Regions from separate parts of the Homo sapiens genome. Here region 1 is linked to region 2. Evidence: fine-mapped expression QTL. Tissue or cell type: skeletal muscle. Region 2 holds a variant in brackets; the other region holds the start of a gene. All regions are shown on one strand. Distances are from middle to middle.

Evidence for each region. PIP is the estimated chance that this variant, and not a neighbour inherited with it, causes the effect.
Region 1: VDAC2 starts here. The variant in region 2 is fine-mapped to the expression of VDAC2 in skeletal muscle (GTEx, PIP 0.97).

What each region holds. Positions count from the first base shown.
Region 1 is chr10:75,207,299-75,215,469 of GRCh38, reverse strand. VDAC2 (voltage dependent anion channel 2) reads right to left here and starts at 4,674. Exons shown (of 10, transcript NM_001391963.1): 1 at 4,532-4,674; 2 at 4,281-4,336; 3 at 3,172-3,240; 4 at 1,400-1,449. The coding sequence starts at 4,311. RefSeq lists silencers at 4,401-4,770, 4,791-5,100, 7,205-7,499 and enhancers at 4,745-5,039, 4,770-5,351, 7,664-8,171.
Region 2 is chr10:75,082,108-75,090,288 of GRCh38, reverse strand. It overlaps the pseudogene PPIAP13. Among named protein-coding and RNA genes, the nearest start is that of DUSP29, 13 kb to the right of the region's middle. RefSeq lists enhancers at 4,937-5,437, 7,445-7,945. The variant G/T (reference allele first, on the strand shown) is at 4,379.

The DNA.
Region 1 (8,171 bases), 130 kb before region 2:
TGAGGCAGGAGAAAGGCATGAACCTGGGAGGTGGAGCTTGCAGTGAGCTGAGATCATGCCACTGCACTCCAGCCTGGGTGACAGTGCAAGACTCCGTCTCAAAAAAAAAAAAAGTCTCTCTCTCTCTATATATATACATACATACATATATCAAAATAACCTATAGTATTCTAATGTGCACACACACCCACCCCTAAAATAATCTCAAAACAAAAATTTTTTAAGTAAAAAAAATTTCACAAAGTTAAATTTTACTAGCTGGGCATGGTGGCTCACATCTGTAATCCCAGCACTTTGGGAGGCCAAGGCAAGTGGATCACTTGAGCTCAGGAGTTCAAGACTAGCCTGGGCAACATGGCAAAACGTCATCTCTAGAAAAACTACAAAAAATACTCAGGCATGATGGATACGGCCTGTACTCCCAGATGCTTGGGAGGCTGAGGTGGGAAGATTGCTTGAGCCCAAGAGGTCGAGGCTGCAGTGAGCTGAGATTGTGCCACTGCACTCACTGCACTCCAGCCTGGGCAACCGAGTGAGACCCTGTCTCGAAAAAAGTTAAATATTAGTTTATCCCCTTTGTAAACAGTTCATTGAACTATCAAGACACCCAAATACCAAAATATTAACCTCTTTAAAAATATTCTTGGCTGGGCATGGTGACTCACACCTGTAATCCCAGCACTCTGGGAGGCCAAGGTGGGTGGATCACCTGAGGTCAGGAGTTGGAGACCAGCCTGGCCAACATGGTGAAACCCCAGCTCTACTAAAAATACAAAAATCAGTCAGGCGTGGTGGCAGGCACCTGTAATTCCAGCTACTAGAGAGGCTGAGGCAAGAGAATCACCTGAACTCAGGAGGCGGAGGTTGCAGTGAGCCACAATCACACCATTGCACTCCAGTCTAAGTGACACAGTGAGACTCCGTCTCAAAAAAAAAAAATTCAGATCAGGACTCCCTAAACTCATAAAATACATGTGGAAATCTTCTCCAGGGAGAACTGCTAGAAAATGGACATTATATAAATGATTAGTACACTCAAATTAATGAGTTCCTGATATTTTTATGCCCATAACTCTGACGAGCATTGTTGACAAAGGGTTACAAAAAAGTCTAATAATGGGTTCCCTGCCTTCAAATGTGTAATCTTACGAGTAAAGAGTACCACCTGACTGGTCTTTCCTAAGTTCCTTGTGCATACATAATATGACGAAAGACCACATGAAAATCAGAAATCACATTCAAGGCCAAAATAAATCAGGTTACACGCAAATCTCTTAAAACAAAGTTAACTTCTGCCTCTTCTTTAAGACAAAACAGGTAGACATCTTTCAGTTATGACCATTTTACAAGTTGAAAAATTATAAAGGTTCAATAGAACTTATTCAACAGTAACACTCACCACGCCACTGCAAGACTTTGTTTTCACATCCAGTTTCACCAACCCAAAACCTTCAACAAATAGACAGCAAAAGAAACAAAATGATTCCTTTGTATGAAAGATGCATAGCAATTGTTGACTATACATAAAAAACAAAAAGATTCCACATATTCAGAGGTGGATAAAAATGTGTTAATATACAATATTTAAATGAAATTGTTACAAATTCGTCTTTTGTAAACTGGCTTATAAAGGGCAGAATTATCCCTATGCTGCTTTGTCTAGTTTTTGGTAGTTGGTACACAAAAGAATGCTTTCAAATTATTTATTTATTTATTTATTTATTTTGAGACGGAGTCTCACTCTGTTGCCCAGGCTGGAGTGCAGTGGCACGATCTCAGCTCACTGCAACCTCCACCTCCTGGGTTCAAGCGATTCTCCTGCCTCAGTCTCCCGAGTAGTTGGGACTACAGGTGCGTGCCACCACGCCTGGCTAATTTTTTGTATTTTTAGTAGAGATGGGGTTTCACCGTGTTAGCTAGGATGGTCTCGATCTCCTGACCTCGTGATCTGCCCGCCTCGGCCTCCCAAAGTGCTGGGATTACAGGTGTGAGCCACCACGCCCAGCCCCCAAACTATTCTTAAACTTAAATATCAGATTAAAAAATCATTCAACTGAAATTTCAGAATAGCTAATAACTTATCATGATATGGCCAGGTGCGGTGGCCCACGCCTGAAATCCTAGCACTTCGGGTAGTCGAGGCAGGCAGACCACTTGAGATCAGGAGTTCAAAACCAGCCTGGCCAACATGGTGAAACCTCGTCTCTACTAAAAATACAAAAAAAAAGCTGGGCATGGTGGCATGTGCCTGTAATCCCAGTTACCAGAGAGGCTGAGGCAGGAGAATTGCTGGAACCCAGGAGGCAGAGGCTGCAGGGAGCCGAGATCACGCCCCTGTACTCCAGCCTGGGCAACAGAGCGAGATTCCGTCTCAAAAAAAAACAAAAACAAAACCAACTTATCATAATACAGACATTTAGGACATTTATGCCAATGGGGTATTTCCAACAGTCTAAATAAAGGGGAGGAGGGTATGGAACAAAATTTTCAAGAAAACTCAAATTCACCTGAAAAAGCTCATAACTCTAGATAAAGTATTAGGAGTCACCACAAAAGCAAAACAGTAATATATCGTAACTCTAGTCAACCAGGGCCTAAGCTATAACTGAAAAAAAATTAAAGCACGAGCCGTTTTTCTTAAAGGCTCAAATCTTCTAAGTACAGTTTTTAAAAATTTTGGGAAATTGGGGGAGGGGGATGTAGACTGTAAAAGAACTATTTTCACATAAGTTTAATCTAAGTATCTTAAGTTTCTAATAGAAGAATTAATACAAGGCTGGGCACAGTGGCTCATGTCTGTAACGTAATCCAACCAGGCTTTGAGAGGCCACTGTGTTTACTGGGTAACACAGTGAGACCCCACCTCTACGAAAAATAAAAAAAATTAGCCAGGTGTGGCAGAGCGTGCCTGTAGTCCCAGCTACTTGGGACGTGGGAGGCTGAGGAAAGATGATCGCTTGAGCCCAGGAGGTCCAGGCTGCAGTGAGGTATAATCATGCCACTGCATCCAGCCTGGGCAACAGAGGGAGACCCTGTCTCAAAAAAATAAGTAACTCTAAATTTAAAGCAGCAAGATATTTACAATTTGCAATGATTGATCTGATTTCGCTAAGCAACCCAAACATACATTTTCACTCTTTATCTAAAACGTTTTAAAAATAAGGTTCTTACCAAATCCTTTGTTGAAAATATCTCTGGCAGCTTTGCCAAGGTCAGCATATGATGGAGGAATACACATTGCTGGTAGAAAAAAAACATTCCAGTGTTAATGTCTCTATTCTCCCACCTTCTATCCAAGAACAAGAGCATGACCCACTGCTGATATTAAAATTCAAGCAATCCCATTTGTTGGAATGTTTTTTATGCGGTCAGGAGCTACAATAGAACTATAACGACCCATAAAGGAGATACCACCAACGAATTATTTCTAAAACAGATAACCATGATTATACAAACTTGGGGAATTCGTTTCAAAACGGAAAAACAGTCTATTACCTACAGCCTCACTTCCTAGGACTGGACAAGTACAAAGAATCAAACAAGTATTTGTGTGTATGGATATTTATGTATCTGCCAAAATTCACTGAGATGAGCTGATTTAACTAAATTAGATAAAACCGAAACCTAAGACTAGGCCCTTTACCCTGATACGTCCTTTAATATCTTCGCTGAGGGGAAAACCAACACCCTGGAGTGGGAAGAGAATTTAATACTGGGAATTTAAATATTGAAACTTGGAAAAAATACTGCCATGTGTGTTTCACTCAAATGTCTACATCAACTAAATATCAAATAGCGCTTCAAACTTACTAATGTGACTCTCAAGTCCTCGGCCAATGCTGTGCTGCTTAAGGGCAGGCAATCTGAGCTCATTACACCAGCTCATTCATTCCACAAAGCACGTCCACGCCCTTAGGAGCACAAGTAATGACCTTGCGCTCTCACAAGAGGGACTGCTACTTCCTCTAGAAAAGTGATTGATCCGATCCTCCAAAGGCAGAATCCCCAATTAACAACTTTTTACTTCTATACGTCAAAGACATGTACAAAGGCTGAAAAGTCCATGCGGCCACAGACCAACTCCCCGGGCCTTGTTCCCCATTTGAAATCCAGCAGCCCAGCCCCTCCTCCGCAGAGGAGGTGGTCAGACGGTGGGGCGACCACCAAAAGCAGCCGAATTTCCAAGTTCTTGGAAAGATAGGGGGAAACAAACTGGGTTTCTGGTCGACAGGCTTCGACTCTCCGCCGCCCCATCCCGCAGAGATCCCAGCTTTACTTACGACGCGCGCAAGTCTGTCCGTGGGTCGCCATGGCGAGGCCGCGGGAAGAGGGGAATCTGCGGGAGGGACAAGAAGTGCGGTAAGCTGGGGTCAAAGGGCCAAAGGGAGATCCCGGGCAGAGAGGGGCGAGGGGCCGCGGGGCAGCGCGGCCATCTTAGGAAGCCAGGGCCGACTCCGAGTCCGGCGCGGGCCTCCGGCTTGGCCGCCGCGGCCTAGGCCCCTGGGTCGGCGTGAGGCGGGCGCGGCGGTACCTGGTGGTGTCCTGAGGGGGGCCGCCGCCACCGCTCCGCTAGCTGCTGAAGCCGCTTGGCACGCTCGCGGTCGGGCTGCAGCTCCAGCAGCTGGAGGGCGAAGTGAAGGAGACACCGTTCCGCCCGCCGCAACCCTGTCCTCTCCCAGACAGGACCCCGCCGCTGCCCCCGGGGCTGTCCGCCGCGCCTGTCCCTGCAGCGCAGCCCGCTGCCAACTCCAACCTGCTCCAGAGCGGCCACGTGGACCGACAGCGCCCCGGTCCTGCAGGTGGGCTGCCTCCGTCCGTCGGTGGGGATCCGGAAGGCAGAAGCTGCTGGGCCTTGGATCAGGCAGCTATCCGGGCAGCCTCAGAGGCGAGGGGGCGGGGAACGGCGGAGGCAGCGCGCTGGGGACCGCCTGGGAGGGGGATGGGGCGGAGGCCCCGCGCGAACGCGTCACGGACGGGGCGGGGCGTCGGCGCGTGGCCGGGGCGATAGGGCGCGGCTGCGCACCAGGGTCACGTAGATCTCTCCTACTCCCCTTACGCGCTGGTGCGGGTTCCCCCCCGAAACAAAGCCCTGCATAGGGTGCCTGCGGGGAGTCAGCTGAGCGTTACCCACGTCCATCCTAAGCTAGCGCAGCCTGCGCTTCTGAGGGACCGCTTCTCTTTCCCAGCCCAGGGAGAACGAGTGGGACACAGGGGCGCCACCTCCAGCCCCTCGCGCTCTTCTGCCCTCTTTTCCCACCTTGGTGTGACTGCCTTGCTGTGCTGGGTTGTGTGCCTGAGAGGCTTTTTGGGACTGCCTCTCCCTGAACAAATGTGAGCGGGTCCTAGCGTGCCCCACCCATTTCCACGCCGCCTTACGCTTTCTCTTCCGCGGCTCCTCCCCACTCAGGCATGGCACTGCTTCACACACGCACGGAGCCGGAGCTTGGCGAGGCAAGCCTGCTCCGGGCCCAACCTCCTCTGGATTATGGGCCTGGAGAAAATGTGGAATCATGCTGAGCAGGCGTTAGAATGCCGCACCCGAGTTCCCCGGGTGTGCAGGAAGGGTGACAGAGCTATTAGATAAAATGTATATGGGAGACCGTTAGTTTAGACTGACCTCCTGCATTAGGCCCATCAGACCAAACCAAAATGGGGTTACTCATGCTGAAGTTTCACACTACCACGCCAAAGCTAGGATCTTTATCTGACCTTCCAAGAAATCAGGAGAGAAACAGATGCTAGCCAGATCCCCAAACAGGCTGGGCGCGGTGGCTCACACCTGTAATACCAGCACTTTTGGATGCCGAGGTGGGCGGATCGCCTGAGCTCAGGAGTTCCGGACCAGCCTAGGCATAGTAATACCCTGCCTCTACCAAAAAAAAAAAAAAAAAAAAAAAAAATAGCCGGGCGTGGTGGCTGGCGCCTGTAGTCCCAGCTAATTGGGAGGCTGAGGAGGGAGGATCGCTTGAGCCTGGGAGGTTGAGGCTGTAGTAAGCTTAGATGGTGCCACTACTGCACTCCAGCCTGCCCGCTGGAGTAAGACCCTGTCTCAAAACAAAAATCCCCAAACAGGTCAGTTTTAGCTGGCATGAAGAAGTCCCGTGTTCTTTAACCTTTACAAGAAAAGTAACTTTCTACCAACTAATCCACTTTTTGTTTCTGCTTTCCTCGGTCCTTTTCTGTCTGTAATACCAACTTCCTCTTCTCATTGGAACATTCATTCCATTTTACAGAATGAAGCGTTGCCCAATTGTAGAATTGGAACTAAAAGCCAGTTAAGATGTTTAAACTAAATTCTTTGTAATTTTTTCTTTTAACAGAGCCAAAGGAAAAAGAAAAAATGAGCAGTCTAATGAAATAGAAATGGGTTCAACTGGAACTCCCAAAGCAGTCATCTATCCAATAATGTCGCCGGTAGACCTCAGTGGTTTTTTTGGGTTTTCTTCTTTTTTTTTTGAGACGGAGTCTCGCTCTGTCGCCCAGACTGGAGTGCAGTGGCGCGATCTCGGCTCACTGCAATCTCCACCTTCCGGGTTCACGCCATTCTCCTGCCTCAGCCTCCCGAGTAGCTGAGACCACAGGTGCCTGCCACCACGCCCGGCTAATTTTTTGTATTTTTAGTAGAGTCGGGGTTTCACCATGTTAGCCAGGATGGTCTCGATCTCCTGACCTCGTGATCTGCCAGTCTCGGCCTCCCAAAGTGCTGGGATTACAGGTGTGAGCCACCGCGCTCGGCCTACCTCATTTTTTTAATCTATAAAATGACAAATGAAACGAAGTGATCTTTAATAGCCATCAGCCATAGTCTCTGAGCAAAGCCTTTTCCCCCTTGACTTTCTCTGGCTCTGAAAGCCATGTCTGCTCAAATGCTCTCAACGTTCTACCCTCCTCCTAAACCAGAAAAGGATAGGCTTCCACAGTTCAAAACCCAGATGAAAGCTGCAGCCTGGAAGATTTCCCTCCCATGAGCAAGCCCAGCCAGCTGTCTTGCCTGGTCATGACTGGGCTTACTCATGTTGCAAAAGGTTAGCAGAATTTACTTCTAAGACATCAGGCACCAGAAGCCCTCATTCATTCCTTCATTCGAGCTCAGACAGGTCGGTTTGCAGTCATCCTGGCTCTTCTGGGAAATAGTCTGGTATGTTTGATGTTATTGTGAGGCTAACAACAAAGACCGGCATTTCCATCCCAACTGCACCACAGCACCCTACCTCCCCGAAACACCCAGTCTGATAAATGAGTCACCTCCACTACCTGCAGCAGGGCTTATTCACAATGTGAATTTTCTGTAGCAATTTGTAGCCCCCTGCACTTCACTTTCTCTGTGGCTTCACCTTCTGCAAACCCAAGGAATGTACACAATACCTAATGACCAGGGGAAGAAGATCTGTGGCTAAACAGGGGAATAATGGCAGTTTTTTCCAGAGCTGAATTTAGTAAATAAATATGAGTGCTTACATCCAAAGTCCTTTAGACCAAAGCGGCATTAGTAGGTAGTTACTACCTACCACAAGCAACTACTTTGTGTCATCCACAGGGTAAGCAAAGTCCACTGAGACACAGTCCCTACTCTCAAGGCACTTAACAGTCAAGTGTGTGTAAAGATGTCAAGAACAGGGGAGGGTCCAAAAGTTTACCCTACTTGCAAACTATCAAGTTAGTCTGCCATAGTTTCAGAGGCTCACAGATGCTAGCAGAAGACATGAGACGTATGGGTCAAGGACAAAAGACTCTCTTACTTGTGGCCCAGCAGGCAGTGTAAGCTTCGTGTTTTGCCTCAATTCCCCCTGTCCTCTGTGTCCCTCAAGGATGATGCCAGAGCAGCTTAGGTGGATGCTGTGCACAGCATGCATTCGTGTCACAGCCAAGGAACCCTAAGCTTACAAAACCACGTGTCTTAGAAGGAGCTGCTAACAAATCTGCCCAACCTTCATACTGTGAAAGGAAAATATCTTGGGCCCCCAAGATCATTAAGCTAAAGGGAAAAGTCAAGCTGGGAACTGCTTAGGGCAAACCTGCCTCCCATTCTGTTCAAAGTCATCCTTCCGCTCACTGAGATAAATGCGTATCTGATTGCCTCCTTTGGAGAGGCTAATCAGAAACTCATTGCAACCATTTGTCTCTCACCTACTTGTGACCTGGAAGCCCTCTCCCCACTTCGAGTTGTCCCG
Region 2 (8,181 bases):
AGATAGCGACTCACTCTGTTGCCCAGGCTGGAGTCCAGTGGTACAATCACAGCTCACTGCAGCCTCGATTTTCTGGGCTCAAGGGGTCCTCCCACCTCAGCCTCCCAAGTAGTTGGGACCACAGGCACATGCCACCACGCCCAGCTGACTTTTTGTAGAGACGGGGTCTCCCTATGTTACCACTCTGTTCCCAAACTCCTGGACTCAAGCGATCCTCCTGCCTTGGCCTCCCAAAGTGCTGGGATGACAGGCATGAGCCACCACACCTGGCCAGGCCATGCTTTATTTTTTATTCAAACACAGGTAGATGGAGGGCCAGGAGAGTAAGCATGGAGGAATGGAGGCCAGGTCTACTACTGCCCCTCAAGTTCCATGGGCCAGAACCAGTCACATGGCCACACCTAACTGCAGGGGAAGCCAGGAAATAGTCTAGGGTGGTGCCCAAGAAGAAGAGGAAACTGCAGATATTGATGATCATGAGCTTTCTACAGCGGGCATTAAAAAAAACAAAAACAGGCTTTGCAGACGCCACAGCCACTGGCAGGAGCCCTGTACTATCAGCCATGGTTAACCCCACCATGTTCTTTGACATCGCCGCGAGCCCTTAGACTGTGTCTCCTTCGAGCTGTTTGCAGACAAAGTTTCAAAGACAGCAGAAAACTTTCGTGCTCTGAGCACTGGAGAGAAAGGATTTGGTTGTAAGGGTTCCTGCTTTCACAGAATTATTCCAGGGTTTATGTGTCAGGGTGGTGACTTCACATGCCATAATGGCACTGGTGGCAAGTCCATCTACTGGGAGAAATTTGATGATGAGAACTTCATCCTAAAGCATACAGGTCCTGGCATCTTATCCATGGCAAATGCTGGACCCAACACAAATGGTTCCCAGTTTTTCATCTGCACTGCCAAGACTAAGTGGTTGGATGGCAAGCATGTGGCCTTTGGCAAGGTGAAAGAAGGCATGAATATTGTGGAGGCCATGGAGGGTCCAGGAATGGCAAGACCAGCAAGAAGATCACCATTGCTGACTGTGGACAACTCTAATAAGTTTGACTTGTGTTTTATCTTAACCTCCAGACCATTCCTTCTGTAACTCAGGAGAGCATCCTTCCACCCAATTTGCTCGCAGTATCCTAGAATCTTTGTGCTCTCACTGCAGTTCCCTTTGGGTGCCATGTTTTCCTTGTTCCCTTCCATGCCCAGCTGGATTGCAGAGTTAAGTTTATGATTATGAAATAAAAACTAAATGCCAAACAAACAAACAAAATATATACATACACATACACACATGTATAATTTATATGTATAATTTTTACATTTGTATTAATTTAGAAATTATATATATGTATATACAATTAAACTCTCATAAACCCTAAGAGGTAGATAATGTTGTTATTCCCATTTTACAGATAAGAAAACTGAGGCTTAAAGAGCTTAAGTAAAGTTTCTCAGGTTGCTTAGCTAGCAGGGTAGAATCATACTACCAACTCAGTCAGTGAACCTGTGTTCTTAAACACTTCGTGAGCCTCCATTCTGGATTGGCCTTAGTGACTTGCTGGCCAGGAGAATGCAGCAGAAGCAGCATTCTGGGGCTTCCGAGGCTGTCATAAGACACTTTGCATCTTCTACCTGGGTCTCTTGGAATGTGCTCTCTGGGAATCCTGAGCCACCCTGTAGAAGTCGGCCTGTGCCCCACTCTGCCATGCTGGACTGGTCATGGGTAGGCCAACTGGTTGACAGCCTCACTGAGCCCAGACACTAGACATTTGTGTGACCCTTTCTTGTTTACTCCATACCAGCATATCTGCCAGCGAAATACCACAGAGTGACCTCTGTCAATGCCACATGGAACAGCAAAATTGTTTACTGAACCCTCCTGAATTACTGACCTAAAATGAGATATCAGAAAATGCTCTTGTTTGGAGTCACTAAGTTTTGGGGTAGTTTGTTACACATCAATGGGTAAGCAGCACAGGGGCAGAGCCAGGTCTGACCAGCAGCCCTGGCTTGTAGCCACTTCATTAGCCTCCAGAGGAGTGTGTGAGTGAGGAAGCGACAGGGCGGCTACATCCATCACCCCGGTGCTGAGTGCATGGAGATGAGAGGCCCTGTGTCTACAGGGGAATGAAGACGGCAATAGAGCTCCACTGGAGACCAGGAAAGATGTTAGGGGCCCAAGGGGGATATTGGTGGCAAAGGCCTTGAGATGGGGAGGGTGGAGAGGCTACCAGAAAGAGAACCTTTCCCCACTCCTCATCCACATCCCCAGCTCTTTCCTAAGCTCCCGCCATCCTACCTTCCTCCCAGGACAATAAACTCCAGCTGAGAGGCCCGAGACCTCCTTCCTGCCCTCGGCAAGGCCTCCTGGGGGTTCTGCTGGCCTCTAGCTCAGAGCCAGTCCTTGATGACTGCCTCCTCTGCTTTCTGCCCTGGGGTGGGGAGGGCAGTTGCAGTGTGGACTCCGTAACCAGGGAGGCCTTGGGGGAAACTTGGTTGGGGAAAACTCAAGGGGAACTGGCCTACCCCATGACATCCTCCCCAGGTACTACCCTCCCTGCCAAGCAGGAGGAACCACCACCATTATTCTCCTTTGCCTCAGATCACTCTGCTTTTCTCAGCTCATTCCCCCAGGTGTCTGCATTCATCTCCTCATCCGTGCTTCTTGATCCGTATGATGTCAGGTCAGCCTGGTCTCTCTCCTTGGGAGCTGCTAGCATTTCCCCTCCTCTGAGATTTTCTGCGCTCCGGCTGCTACTTCAGAGCCTTCCATCAGCCCATTCTTCCCCCACCCCCACCCTCCCGCTCCCTCCTCAGAACCCTTTCCCTTTCACACCTGTGCAGGTGTTTGGGCTTTGCCTCCTGGACCCTCTGAGCCTGTGATGGGGCTCCTGGGACCCATGACTATGACCCCGTCAGACTAGGCTTGTGGGCTCCAGCTTAGTGATAGTGATTGCTAGGACCATCCTGACTTGGATAGTGATTGTGAGGGAGGGCCCAGGATCAGGGGCACACTTTAAAAGGAGTGCTGGAGAAGGCATCACTTCATTTGAGTGATGAACTTGCAGGCAGCAGTGCTAAGGGGGAAGCTTGGGAGTGGGGTGAAGAGGCTCTTCTGGTTCCTTTGCAGCCATGCCACATGAATATGAATGAGCACTCTGTCCAGCCTGTGCAAGGCACCCATCGTGCCAGCACCCCTTTCTGAGGGATTCCTGGCCTCACAAACTCTTTACAGGGTGGATCTGCTGTCCTAGCCAGAGACGGCTGCATTAGGATGAGCCCTGTTAAAAAAAAAAAAATTGGTGATGCTTGTTAAAGCACAGAAAGGAAGACTTCAGGACCACCGAGATGGGTATGGGGACCACAACAGTGGGATTTTGCAGTGGGAAGAAGAGATTGGGTTCAACTCTGAATACGGCATGGACAAGTGGGACTTTATAGACAAGGAGAGGGGTAGAGTTAGTGGAAGGAAAATTACCAAGAGGAAATATCAGGGATAAGAGGGATTTTGGCTAAACTAGCCTAATAGGATTTTTGCTGAAAACAGGCCAGGATGGCTCGATATCACCTGAAGAAGGGTGGAGGAGGAGAAACCTGATCAGATATGCAAGGGAGCGGGGGCAGGGAGGAGTTCCTGATAAACTGACTTAGCAGGGTTGTTGCTAAAACTCAATTTTACCAGGAAGTGCACAGGTGGGCCGAGAAGAAGGTTCAGGAGCCTGACTGAAGTTTGGTCAAGCCAAGAATCTTTGTCTGGAGCTGGATAGCGACTTCTACTTGCCTCCCAATATTTATTCTCCCCTTTACTTTGGCAAAGAGCCTCGAGTGTTATCTGGGTGGCCATGAACCCAGCTAAAGTAGAACATCTCCCAGCCTCCTTGCAGGTAAGTGTGACCAAATGACTACATTCTGGCAGATGAAACGTAAGTGGAATTCTTGTGTGGAACTTGTGAAAAGTCTCTTTGAAAGGGAAAGACTAGGCCGAGGCGGGTAGATCACCTGAGGTCAGGAGTTCAAGACCAGCCTGGCGAACATGATGAAACCCTGTCTCCACCAAAAACACAAAAATTAGCCGGCCATGGTGGTGGGCACCTGTAGTCCCAGCTACTAGGGAGGCTGAGGCAGAAGAATCACTTGAATCCTGGAGGGGGAGGTTGCAGTGAGCTGAGATGGTGCCACTGCACTCCAGCCTGGGCGACAGAGGGAGACTCCATCTCAAAAAAAAAGAAAAAAATCACCTCCGTGGTGCTGCCTGGAGTGTGAATGTGAGCGTGGGGCTCCCTGCTTGTCCTGAACCGCCTCTGCAGTCCAGGACGAGCGAGAGAGAAATGATTATCTTGAGAGAGAAATAAGCAAAGTTTATAATTTCTGAGAGAGAAAT[G/T]ATTATCTTGTTTAAGCCACTATTTTTGAAGTCTCCATTACTTGCCCCAAACCTGGTCTTAACTGTTCTGTCTCCTGACCCACAGGTAGCCAGAGGCCTGTGAGGCCCTTTCATGTAAGAGCTGCCATTGACAGGACGGGGAATTGCCCACCCAGTGAGGCGCTTTCTGGGAGAGTTTGAATGGGAGACAGAGTCAGAGGTGGCAGGTTGGGTTGGAAGGTGCCTGGAGAGAGAGATCAGGAAGCAGGAGCCAGAAGGCAGCAGAAGTCACCAAGAACCAGAGGCAGGCAGCTGCAGCCACAGGAACCTCAGAGGCAAAGCAGAGGAGAGTCTCCGTAACCAGAGCACTGGGAGGCAGAGCAGTCTGCACTTGAGAACCCATGCGGAGCCGGCCAGGGAGCCATGGCCATGCCGGGAGGCACTCCCATTGCCCAGCAGAGTCCTTGCTCTTAAGTGTGTTACTCATGAACCTCTGAGGTCACCTGAGTGGGGGTCCACCTTGTGGCATCTGAAAGAAACTCATCATTCACTTCTTGAACCTTGATAGGACCATGGGCACCACCTGAAGAGAGGGAGCACCTTTGGGAGGATGGCGGGTCGATGGATCCAGGACTGTCCCAGAAATGGGCACCACACAGAGGTATGTGGCCGATCTCACTCACTCTCCATCCAGCGCTGTCCCTCTTGAGAAGCAGCCACATGTCTCCAGCAAGGAGATCGTAACACACCCCGCCACCCACGCACCGCCACCACCAAGCTGCGCCGCTGCCTGGGGCAGGAACTGAAAGGTAGAAAGAACCGGGCCTTGGACACGGGTGGACTCGGGTTTTCGCTGCGACTCCTCCTGCGATCAGGAGCTACGACCAGCTGTGTGAACCTGAGCAGATATTGAACTCCTCTGAGCCTCAGGTTCCTCAAGTGTCAAAGTGGGAAGGATTAACAGCCTTGCGCAGCTCTGCTGGGAGGGTGGAAATAACAAAGCAGCCCAGTGCCTGGCACATAGTAGGCGCTCAGTACAAGCTTGAGTATCTCTCCTTCTGCTGAGACAATCAAGAGCACAGAAGGAAGACCTGTATCTCCATCCTTCCTGAGTGGGCGGTGGGAGGGCTGGTAACACAGACCCCAAGAGAGACGCTGTCTTTTCCTGCAGCTTCTCAGAACAGCAGTGGGGGGAGGTGCGTGAGTGAGGCAGGAGGACATAACAGGGCCATTTGAGTCTAAAAGACCCTCATCTGGCTTTACTTCACATTCTTTAAATATATGTATATAATTTACAAACTTTTGCCAAGCAGTTTCACAGAGATAACAGGCTCTGCATTCTATTATAGATTTCGTAACTATGGTTGTCAACTTCCATTAGGATATTAGGCTGTCATGACAAGCACAGCCCTCCTACGTAACACTCAGATTCTCCAGCTACTGCAGTATTTGCTTAATGAAAAGATTCTTGCAGGCTCTCCAGAATCCCTACTGATCTTTATTCTGATCCTTAATTTAGAGAAAAGGAGAGAAAAGTAAAATGCCTTACATGAAACCTCCTCACTTTTTCAACAAAGACGCCGGTGTGGTCTGGCCAAAGTATATGCATGTTCATACATGCGCACACACACACACACGCATGCATACACACCTGAAGCAGGCTTATGAGAAAAATCTGGAATGTCTTGGAATTTTTTTTTCAATTACAGCTCAATAAAAATGTCCTCATAAAATCCTAGGTAAGCAATTGCTTTGCCGACAGGATGGGGCTACCCACATCCCAGGGAAGCCTGCCTGGTGTGATTGGGGGAGGAAGGGCAGAAAACCAGAGTTGATTCCTCCATCCTCCCCCCAACTCCACCCCCCTCACACACAACAGACACAATGGGCTCCTCTAAGGAACAGAATAGCCCATGCTAGGGGGGAAGGTAGGGAGAAACCTACCTTCTTTCTGAAGCCTGTGTAAGTCTGTCCAGACAAGAGGCCAGAAGGAGGTAAGCCCTGTATTAAGCATAATATTTTGAAAATACTGAATGGCTGTACTTTTCATTCCTCTCGCCGACAATTAGGTTGTCTAGAAGTAGGGTTGCCAGATAAAATACAGGACACCCGGTTAAATTTGAGTTTCAGATAAGCAACAGATAACTTTTTAACATAAATACGTCCCAAAGAAGCATGGGACAAACTTAATCTAAAAATTTATTTGTAGGCCGGTGCAGTGGCTCATGCCTCTAATCCCAGCACTTTGGGAGGCCAAGGCAGGAAGATCACTTGAGACTAGGAGTTCAAGACCAGCATGGGCAACAAAATGAGACCCCCATCTCTACAAAAAATAAAGAAAAAAAGTAGCCAGGTGTGGTGGTGCATGCCTGTAGTCCCAGCTACTCAGGAGGCTGAGGTGGAAGGATTGCTTGAGCCTGGGAGGTCAAGGCTGCAGTCAGCTGTGATCGTGCCATTGCATTCCAGCCTAGGTGACAGAGCAAGACCCTATCTCAAAAAACAAAACACAATAACCCATTTATTTGTAAATCTTTCAACCCTACCTGGAAGTCATTTTGTCATTATTGTCCCAGAAAAATGGGAAAGGGGGGCCACATCCAGTAGGAGGAGGCCAAGAGGAGAGGATATTCTGGTAAGAAAGGAAAAGAAAGAGGATGCTTGAAGAAGAGGGAGGTGAGGAGGGGCAGCAACAGAGGTCTATGGAGGGTGACCTCCCTTCTCTAAGACAGTGTCCCAGATGTAGGTGGGGGTGCCATATAGAACGAGGAAGACACTGAAAGAGGGGGACTTTGCTCTTTACTCAGGCTTCTGGAAGATCATTTTGCACCAACGTAAACGTGTAACAGCCAGACTCAAGGGGCCCATAGCATCAAGGCCTTCTTGCCACCTTGCTTCTTGCAATAAACCCTGATGTCATCCATAATCCATCTTGGGCAGGAGAAGGGAATTTGAAGTGCTTGAGGTGTTGTTTTTTTGTTTGTTTGTTGTTGTTGGGACAGGGTCTCACTGCTACCCAGGCTGGAGCGCAGTGGTGCATTCACTGCTCACTGCAGCTTCAACCTTCTGGGCTCAAGTGATCCTCCCACCTCAGTCTTCTGAGTAGCTGGGACTACAGGCGTGCACCACTAGAACTGGTTGGTTTTTTATTTTTGTTTTTTTGTTTTTTGTTTTTGTAGAGATGTTGCCCAGGTTGGTCTTGAACTCCTGGCCTCAAGTGATCCTCCCATCTTGGCCTCTCAAAGTGTTGGAATTACAGGCATGAACCACAGCACCCAGCCCACTTGAGCTTTTAACTGGGAAGGGACTGTGGCATTATCATTTAGCCATTTAAATGTCCTCAATTCCCAGCAGGGTGGGGCCGGTCATGTGGGGAAAGGTAGAAGAGCCAAAGAAAAATAGACACCTCACATTCTTTGCACATCCCAGTGGAAAGAATAGCAGCAACATGAGGGCAGTGCACAGTGTCTCTTGTTGGTACTTTTCACTCAGATTCTAGAGTAATTTTCAGCTCGTAATAGGCAATGGGTCACTATTTGCTGTACAGGAATGGGTAGAATGAGTGAGTTTTTGACTGGTTTCAAGCCCAACTGCAGCCACGAGGGTCTCTCAGATTCCTGGGTCATGCCCGCAGACATCCTTCCCTCCTGAAACTGGCCTCGGGGACAGTCCCAGACCTTGTGCCCAGACACCCAAGTAGTGAGTTGCTTTGCTAGCCCAACCCACCAGCATCTTGTGGGAAAAGCTACAGCAGTAGGATTAGAAAGCCTTTCTTAAAACAACAATGGTTATGTGCTAGGGCCTGTGTTAAGCACTGTGTATTATTT